Homo sapiens: one gene and its partner. The protein of the gene in region 1 purifies or fractionates together with the protein of each later gene. This does not show direct contact. Each region holds a gene or a part of one and is shown on either strand. Other genes may lie near its edges.

Region 1 (3,822 bases):
TAAAACAAATTATTAAATGCAAGTTGTTTTAAATTTTTTCATGTTCAGAAATGAACATAAAAAATATTAAAAATATTTGTATATGTTACAAAACATTCATTAGAGGTAAACAGGATTATCAAATAACATGTATAGCCATTTACTATTTCATAGTTTATGAAGCATTTTTTAATACATTAGCTCATTTGACATAATCAGATTAGTCAGTTTATTTTGACTATTTTAATATTACTACTCTTGGGAGGTTTTTATTTCTGTACATTTTTTATCCTACATCAGAATTCACCTTCAGTAAGGATTAATAAGTAACACTCATTGTGGAGACAGCAACTTATAAAAAATTTTCACAAACTTTTTATATTTTAATCACTTGCGTAGTCTGTGGCATTTATAAGTATACTGATTTTACACTAATGACAATTCTGTGCGTGACACCGTAACTAATATATAACATTTGTTTTAAGACCACTTTCCTGGTGGATAACAAAAAGGTCTTTGGAACTCATCTCATGCAAGACATGGTGAAAGATGCACTTCGGTCTTTTGTCAGTCCTCCGGTGCTTTCCCCCAAGTAAGTATTGTAAGACATTTTAGAGTTGTATGTATGTGCTCCTTTAAAAGCCCAACTTCTCTGTACTCCTTCTTTATAGCCAAAGTATCAAAATTGGGACCAAATCTCCATGTAAAGTAACTTAATAGTGTTAAAATTAATTGATCTCTGCCACATTGTTTAGATTAAAACTAAGGTTTTTATGAGGTTGACAAAATTTCTGATAACTCCAAGTTTTTTGTCTCCAGCGTAAGTCCTTAAACTTTGCCGTAGTAGAGGCACTGCCCCGAAAACATGCTGCCATCAGAGGCTGAAAGGATTGCATGCAGAAAGAATCATCATTTGAAAGCTGGCATTCTGAGAAATGTCAGGCTTTTCCAACAGGGAAGGGAAGAAAGGAGTCATCATTTCTTAACAAAGCACTTACACTTTGTTAAAAAAAAAGATACACCTAACAGTGTATCTTTTTCCACTGAAAGATACACGATGGCTTTCTATCACAAATTACTTCATGGTAGATCTAATTAATTATATGTAATGGCTGCCAAATATTTCATAATAAATGTTGAGTATCTTTTATCCAAAATGCCCTGGACCAGAGGTGTTTTAGATTTCTGATATTTTTGGATTTTTGAAGTATTTGCATGTACATAATGTTGCTCAGGCTGGAGTGCAGTGGCATCATCTCAGCTTACTGCAACCTCCGCCTCCTAGGTTCAAGAGATTCTCCCACATCAGCCTCCTGAGTAGCTGAGATCACGGGTGCATGTCACCATGCCCAGCTAATTTTTGTATTTTTAGTAGAGATGGGCTTTCGCTATGTTGGCCAGGCTGGTCTCAAACCCTGACCTCAAGTGATCTGCCCACCTTGGCCTCCCAAAGTGCTGGGATTATAGGCTTGAGCCACTGCACCGGCCTAATATGTTTCTTTTACATGGTGGTGTAATTTTTGTTAGCTCAAATCTTTTGAAAGCAGAATTCAGCCTGTTCACATTTGGTATACACTATTGGGTCATGAGTTTGATGTTAATAAATCAACAGTATATTAATCCATTAAATGAGGTGTCTTAAACAGAAATACACATAAAATAAGGTTATTCATTGATCAGTGCATGGAAATGTTGTGACCAGAGACTCATAGGAATCTAACCCTTTATTTCCCATGTTAGCAATGATTTAATAGTCTAATTTAGTATCTTCAGAAACTTTATGGAACATAAATACCACAAATAATGATAATTGTATATATGGAAAACTTTATTGTGTGGTAGTCTAGTTGTTCCACTGTTTTAAAACTTTCAGTGTTATAGATGAGAATCCTCTTTTCCTTTGTAAGTGATTTGAAACTTCTTCTGAAGCGTTGATGAGTTTCTCTTTATTTTAGGAGTTCAGAAGTTTTACCAGAATATTCATGTGTGATTTTCAGCTAGTGCTATCTGGAATTCAGTCATTAAAGACTCAGGTTTTTAGTCAGATCATTTGTCCCTGTTATTACTTATTTATTGCTTCACCTTCATCTGTTTTGATTTTTCCTTTTTTAGAGCTCCTAGCATACTAGGGTCTTCTAGAGCTCTCTTACCTATGCCTCATGACAGTCATCTCCTTGTTATTTTTGCTGTGTTGTGAGAAAGTTCTTCCTCTTGATCTTCAAGGCTACTAATGAACATATTTCTTCTACTGAATTTTTAAATTTGAAAATAATCATTTTTAGATTGAGAGAGCCTTTTAAAGCTTTTAAAGAGCCTTTTAAAAGCTTTATTTTAATCTCAAGTAATTTTCTTGCTTTAGGGTTAAAGATGTAATGAACCTTCAGCACTTCCCATTTCACCAACTGCCTGTTCCAGGTGTTGACCTTTTTTCTTTCTCCTGGGTGCTGGGTGCACTGTCTTTGCCATTGTGTGACCTTGACTCTGTTAATCAGAGATAAGGAACACCGTAAAGGAAACCACTTTGTGAGAAGAGATGACGTGCCAAAGGGAGGTATAGGTGATTTATAACCAATGGTGAGGAGTGGGGATACAGAAAAAATTAGGATCCTGTATAGTATTTTCTTTGTGATTATTATTAGGAGCACAGTCCATGAGGAAATCAATTGTAGGGAAATATGTGACACTGAAGTAGGGTCATGAAAAAGTAGAGCTTTAGACTTTTCCTTTTCTCTTTGCTAATTTGATCTTACTGGATCCAACTCTGATTGTTCAAATATAGACCTATAGGAATTGGAAATATCACAGATTTATTGTGTGAATTACATAATAATTGTAAAATATTTCTTAATCTAATACTGAAATTCTTTAACTTAGGTATCGGTTCCATTTTCTCTTTTATTCACCTTCTCTGTCATTTGGTAGCATCTGCAGTAATTGCTGCTGCTTTTGTTTGGGCTGAATAGATTTTAATGATGTGACTGTTATCTTGCAGGTGCTACCTATATAATAATCACCAGGCTAAGGACTGTATCGACTCCTTTGTTACTCACTGTGTTCGGGTAAGAGCTACAATTTGGATTGTCATAATGGGTACTTTAAAAATCATGGGCTGTGGCCGGGCACGGTGGCTCACTTTGGGAGGCTGAGGCAGGTGGATCACCTGAGGTCAGGAGTTTGAGACCAGCCTGGCCAACATAGTGAAACCCCATCTCTACTAAAAATACAAAAATCAGCGTATGGTGGCGCACGCCTGTAGTGCCAGCTACTCAGGAGCCTGAGGTGGGAAAATCGCTTGAACCCAGGAGGTTTCAGTGAACCAAGATCGTGCCACTGCACTGCAGCCTGGGGGACAGAGTGAGACTTTGTCTCAATAACCATAATAATAATAATAATAATAATAAATTGCTGGACTGCAATTCCTTCAGTGTCTGTGCTTTTTTTCATCTAATATTTCTTGTTTACTTTCAGTGAATAAATAAAAACTGTCTCCTCCTAACACTTGAGTGGATGGTTTTATATCCTAAGGTCTTCTGATAGGTTATTAGCTACAGAGGCAGCCTTGGATGACCTCCCACTGCAGCCTGTGGGGACCATAGATAGGGAATGTTATGACTCTCAACTGGGAAAACAGCAGTTGCTTCCTCAAAATTTTTTGTGAATGGACATAAAAACTTTACTTTTTTTTTTAACCTTAGAATTTTTTTTTTTTTTTTTTTTTTTAAGACGGTGTCTCGCTCTGTGGCCCAGGCGGGAGTGCAGTGGCGCAATCTTGGCTCACTGCAAGCTCCGCCTCCCGGGTTCACGCCATTCTCCTGCCTCAGCCTCCCAAGTAGCTGGGACTAC
Region 2 (3,822 bases), on another chromosome or scaffold:
TTTTTGCATGTTACTTAAAACCACTTGTGTACAGTTCTTTTCCATATATTTGACCAATACAGGTTGGTAATTTTTAATTACAGAAATAATTAGTGAATACTTTTTCTAAAAATGCAAATAAAGACCTTCTGGACCAGCAACCCAAATCCTTGTTTCCTTCTTGCTTCTAAAAAGTGACTACTTCTAAAAAGTGACTACTGCCAGGCATTTATTATTATTATTAATGTTAACAGCTAAGGACAAAGTCTTTTTTAGAGAGCCTTTTGCAATTTTTATATTAACCTGTGACAGCCCAGTGATGATCACTATTCCTACTTAGAGAGAATAGGACTAACTTTCAGAAATCCAGGCATTTTTCTACCTTTCATACTATCTTTCTTTCACTTTACTTCTCTTTTCTGTCTTTTATCACTTCTTTCTTTCTTCATTCTTTCTCTCTTTTGCCTGGATCGAGATTGTTAAGTCCCTCTCAGTGAAGGGTAAGATTATGAGATCTGAGGGCTGTATAAATGTAGTAAGTTGTCCCTTAAGCATATTGAAATGTAGTGTGAAAGTTGGATGAAGGACATTTTCTAAACATATGCAAATACCATATCTATCATATCAGTTCATTTTCAAGATGTAACAGGTAATATAAATTTTTTTTTTTGAGACGGAGTCGTGCTCTGTCACCGGGCTGTAGTGTAGTGGTGCAGTCTCTGCTTACTGCAACCTCTGCTTCCCGAGTTCAAGCAATTCTCTGGCCTCAGCCTTCTGAGTAGCTGGGACTACAGGCATGTGCTAGCTAATTGTTGTATTTTTAGTAGAGACGGGGTTTCATCATGTTGGCCAGGATGGTCTCAATCTCTTGACCTCGTGATCCACCCAGCTTGGCCTCCCAAAGTCCTGGGATTACAGGCATGAGCCACCATACCCGGCCTTTTTTTTTTTTTTTTTTTTTAAAGACGGAGTTTTGCTCTTGTTGTCCAGGCTGGAGTGCAATGGCGGGATCTCGGCTCACTGCAACGTCCGTCTCCCGGGTTCAAGCGATACTCCTGCCTTAGCCTTCCAATTAGCTGAGATTACAGACGCATGCCACCACGCCCAGCTAATTTTTTGTATTTTAGTAGAAACTGGGTTTCACCATGTTGGCCAGGCTGGTCTCGAACTCCTGACCTCAGGTGATCTACCCGCCTTGGCCTCCCAGAGTGCTGGCATTATAGGTGTGAGCCACCGCATCTGGCCTAACTATTTTTAAAATTACTTTTTATAGCCAGTGGGGTGGCTCATGCCTATATTCCCCACACATTGAGAAGCCAAGGCAGGCAGATCACTTGATCTCATGAGTTGGAGACCAACCTAGGCAACAGAGTGAAACCTCGTCTCTACTGACAATATAAAAATTAGCCAGGCATACTGGTGTGCACCTGTAGTCCCTGCTACTTGGGAGACTGAGGTGGGAGGATAGCTTGAGCCCAGGAGGCAGAGGTTGTAATGAGCTGAGATCGCACCACCTCGCTCCAGCCTGGGTGACACAGCCAGACCTTTCTCAAAAAAAAAAAAAATTACTTTTTGTTAAGTGACATACTATTTTCATTGCTATTTAAGAAATCTAGTTTGTAATATAAAGTAATTCTATGGCAAAGTGTCACTTTATGTGAAACTCAACCCAACTTTTTTTTTTTTTTTTAAGACAGTGTTTTGCCCTGTCACCCAGGCTGTAGTGCAGTAACATGATCATGGCTCACTGTAGTTTTGACCTCCCAGGCCCAATCAATTCTCCACCTCAGCCTTCCTAGTAGCTGGGACTACAGGCGCATACCACCATGCCTAGCTAAGTTTTTGTATTTTTTTTTTTGTAAAGACAGGGTTTTGCCATGTTGTGCAGGCTGGTCTCAAACTCCTGGGCTCCAATGATCCTCCCACCTCAGCCTCTTAAAGTGCTGGGGTTACAGATATGAGCCACTGAGCCCACTGCGCCCAGCCTGATAATTTTATCTTTGTTTTTGTTTGTTTGTTTTTGTTTTTTGTTTGTTTTTGTATTTTTAGTTAGAGACAGAGGGTTTCACCATGTTGGCCAGGGTGGTCTTGATCTCTTGACCTCGTGATGCACCCGCCTTGGCCTCCCAAAGTGCTGGGATTACAGGTGTGAGCCACCACACCCAGCTACTTTAAGTTTTAATAATGGTAATTTTTTATGGTCTGTAAAGAATAAAACAGGACAACTAGAGATGCTGTGGGAATTTACGTTTAATTGGTGGGGTTATAATTATTCAAGAGGTTTTAAATCCTTATTCCTAGAGTCAGGAATTGGCAACATGTGATTTATATTGTTGGTTTATAACTATGAAAATAGATTACAAAAACTGAGATATATAAACTGCAAATAATGGGCCAAACATAAATCTCACTCTTCTTAATCTGTAGATCCAAGATCCTCAGTTGCTTGAGATTTTAGGTGTTTTTGCTACTGATTAAACTACATTCTTTTTATATTAGTCAACCTTAGCTTCATCTGTTGTAAGCTTTTAGGAAGTTGGGTGCTTATACCCATCATCCAAGATAAAAACTCCCTTTGTTAAAAGCAGATTGGTTGGTTTAACCACATTGCATACCTTAATTCATGCAGTCATGCCATGCTATTGGGTGCATTGGTATTTTCCTAGTTTGCTGTCCTACATATGGATCTTTTGATAAATCTCATTTGGTGATGGATGTTTAGTAAGATGCTAGGTTTTGTTTGTTTTGTTTTTTGAGACGGAGTTTTGTTTTTGTTGCCCAGGCTGGAGTGCAATGGTGTGATCTTGGCTCCCTGCAAACTCCACCTCCTGGGTTCAAGAGATTCTCCTGCCTCAGCCTCCTGAATAGCTGGGATTACAGGTGTTTGCCACCATGCCAGGCTAATTTTTGTATTTTTAGTAGAGATGGGGATTCACCATGTTAGCCAGGCTGGTCTAGAACTCCTGACCTCAGGTGATCTGCCCGTCTCCACTTCCCAAAGTTCTGGGATTACAGGCGTGAGCCACCATGCCCGGCTGAGGCTAGGATTTTAATTATATTCCAATATTTCTTACTCTCTTCATTATTACTCCCCTAAACAGCCTTTTTAGGCATTTTCCTCCTAGTTTCTGCCTGTGAAAATTTACTACTACAGATTATTGTATGTCTGTATGTATGTAATGTATGTATCTGTGCTTTATACATAAAATGATTACTTTTTGCCCTTCCTTCGCCCCCGTTTTTACTCCCATTAGCGTGGTTTTGCTTCCATTAAGAATGCATAGCTGGGCCTGGTGGCTCACACCTGTAATCCCAGCACTCTGGGAGGCCGAGGTGAGCAGATCACCAGGTCAGGAGATCGAGACCATCGTGGCCAACATGGTGAAACCCCATCTCTACTAAAAATACAAAAATTATCTAGGTGTGGTGGCACGTGCCTATAGTCCCAGCTACTCGGGAGGCTGAGGCAGGAGAATCTCTTGAACCCGGGAGGCGGAGGTTGCAGTGACCTGAGATCGCGCCATTGCACTCCAGCCTGGCGACAGAGCAAGACTCCGTATCAAAAAAAAAAAAAAAAAAAAAAAAGGGTGTTATAGGCCAGGTGTGATGGCTCATGCCTGTAATCCCGACACTTTGGGAGGCCAAGGTGGGCGGTTCACGAGGTCAAGAGTTCAAGACCAGCCTGGCCAACATGGCAAAACCCTGTCTCTACTGAAAATACAAAATTAGCCGGGTGTGGTGGCATATGCCTGTAGTCCAGCTACTTGGGAGGCTGAGGCAGGAGAATCGCTTGCATCTGGGAGGCAGAGGTTGCAGTGAGCCGAGATTGCACCACTGCGCTCC

Evidence for each region.
Region 2: the proteins of NAA35 (region 1) and LARP4 fractionate together in Homo sapiens (co-fractionation; one large-scale study listed by BioGRID). This does not show direct contact.

The regions. Positions count from the first base shown.
Region 1 is NC_000009.12:86,006,894-86,010,715, forward strand, and holds part of NAA35 (N-alpha-acetyltransferase 35, NatC auxiliary subunit), read left to right. Parts: intron 1-464; coding exon 465-571; intron 572-2,971; coding exon 2,972-3,038; intron 3,039-3,822. UniProt on the Homo sapiens protein: Auxillary component of the N-terminal acetyltransferase C (NatC) complex which catalyzes acetylation of N-terminal methionine residues. N-terminal acetylation protects proteins from ubiquitination and degradation by the N-end rule pathway.
Region 2 is NC_000012.12:50,456,283-50,460,104, forward strand, and holds part of LARP4 (la-related protein 4), read left to right. Parts: exon of another isoform or gene 1-146; intron 147-288; exon of another isoform or gene 289-504; intron 505-3,822. UniProt on the Homo sapiens protein: RNA binding protein that binds to the poly-A tract of mRNA molecules. Associates with the 40S ribosomal subunit and with polysomes. Plays a role in the regulation of mRNA translation.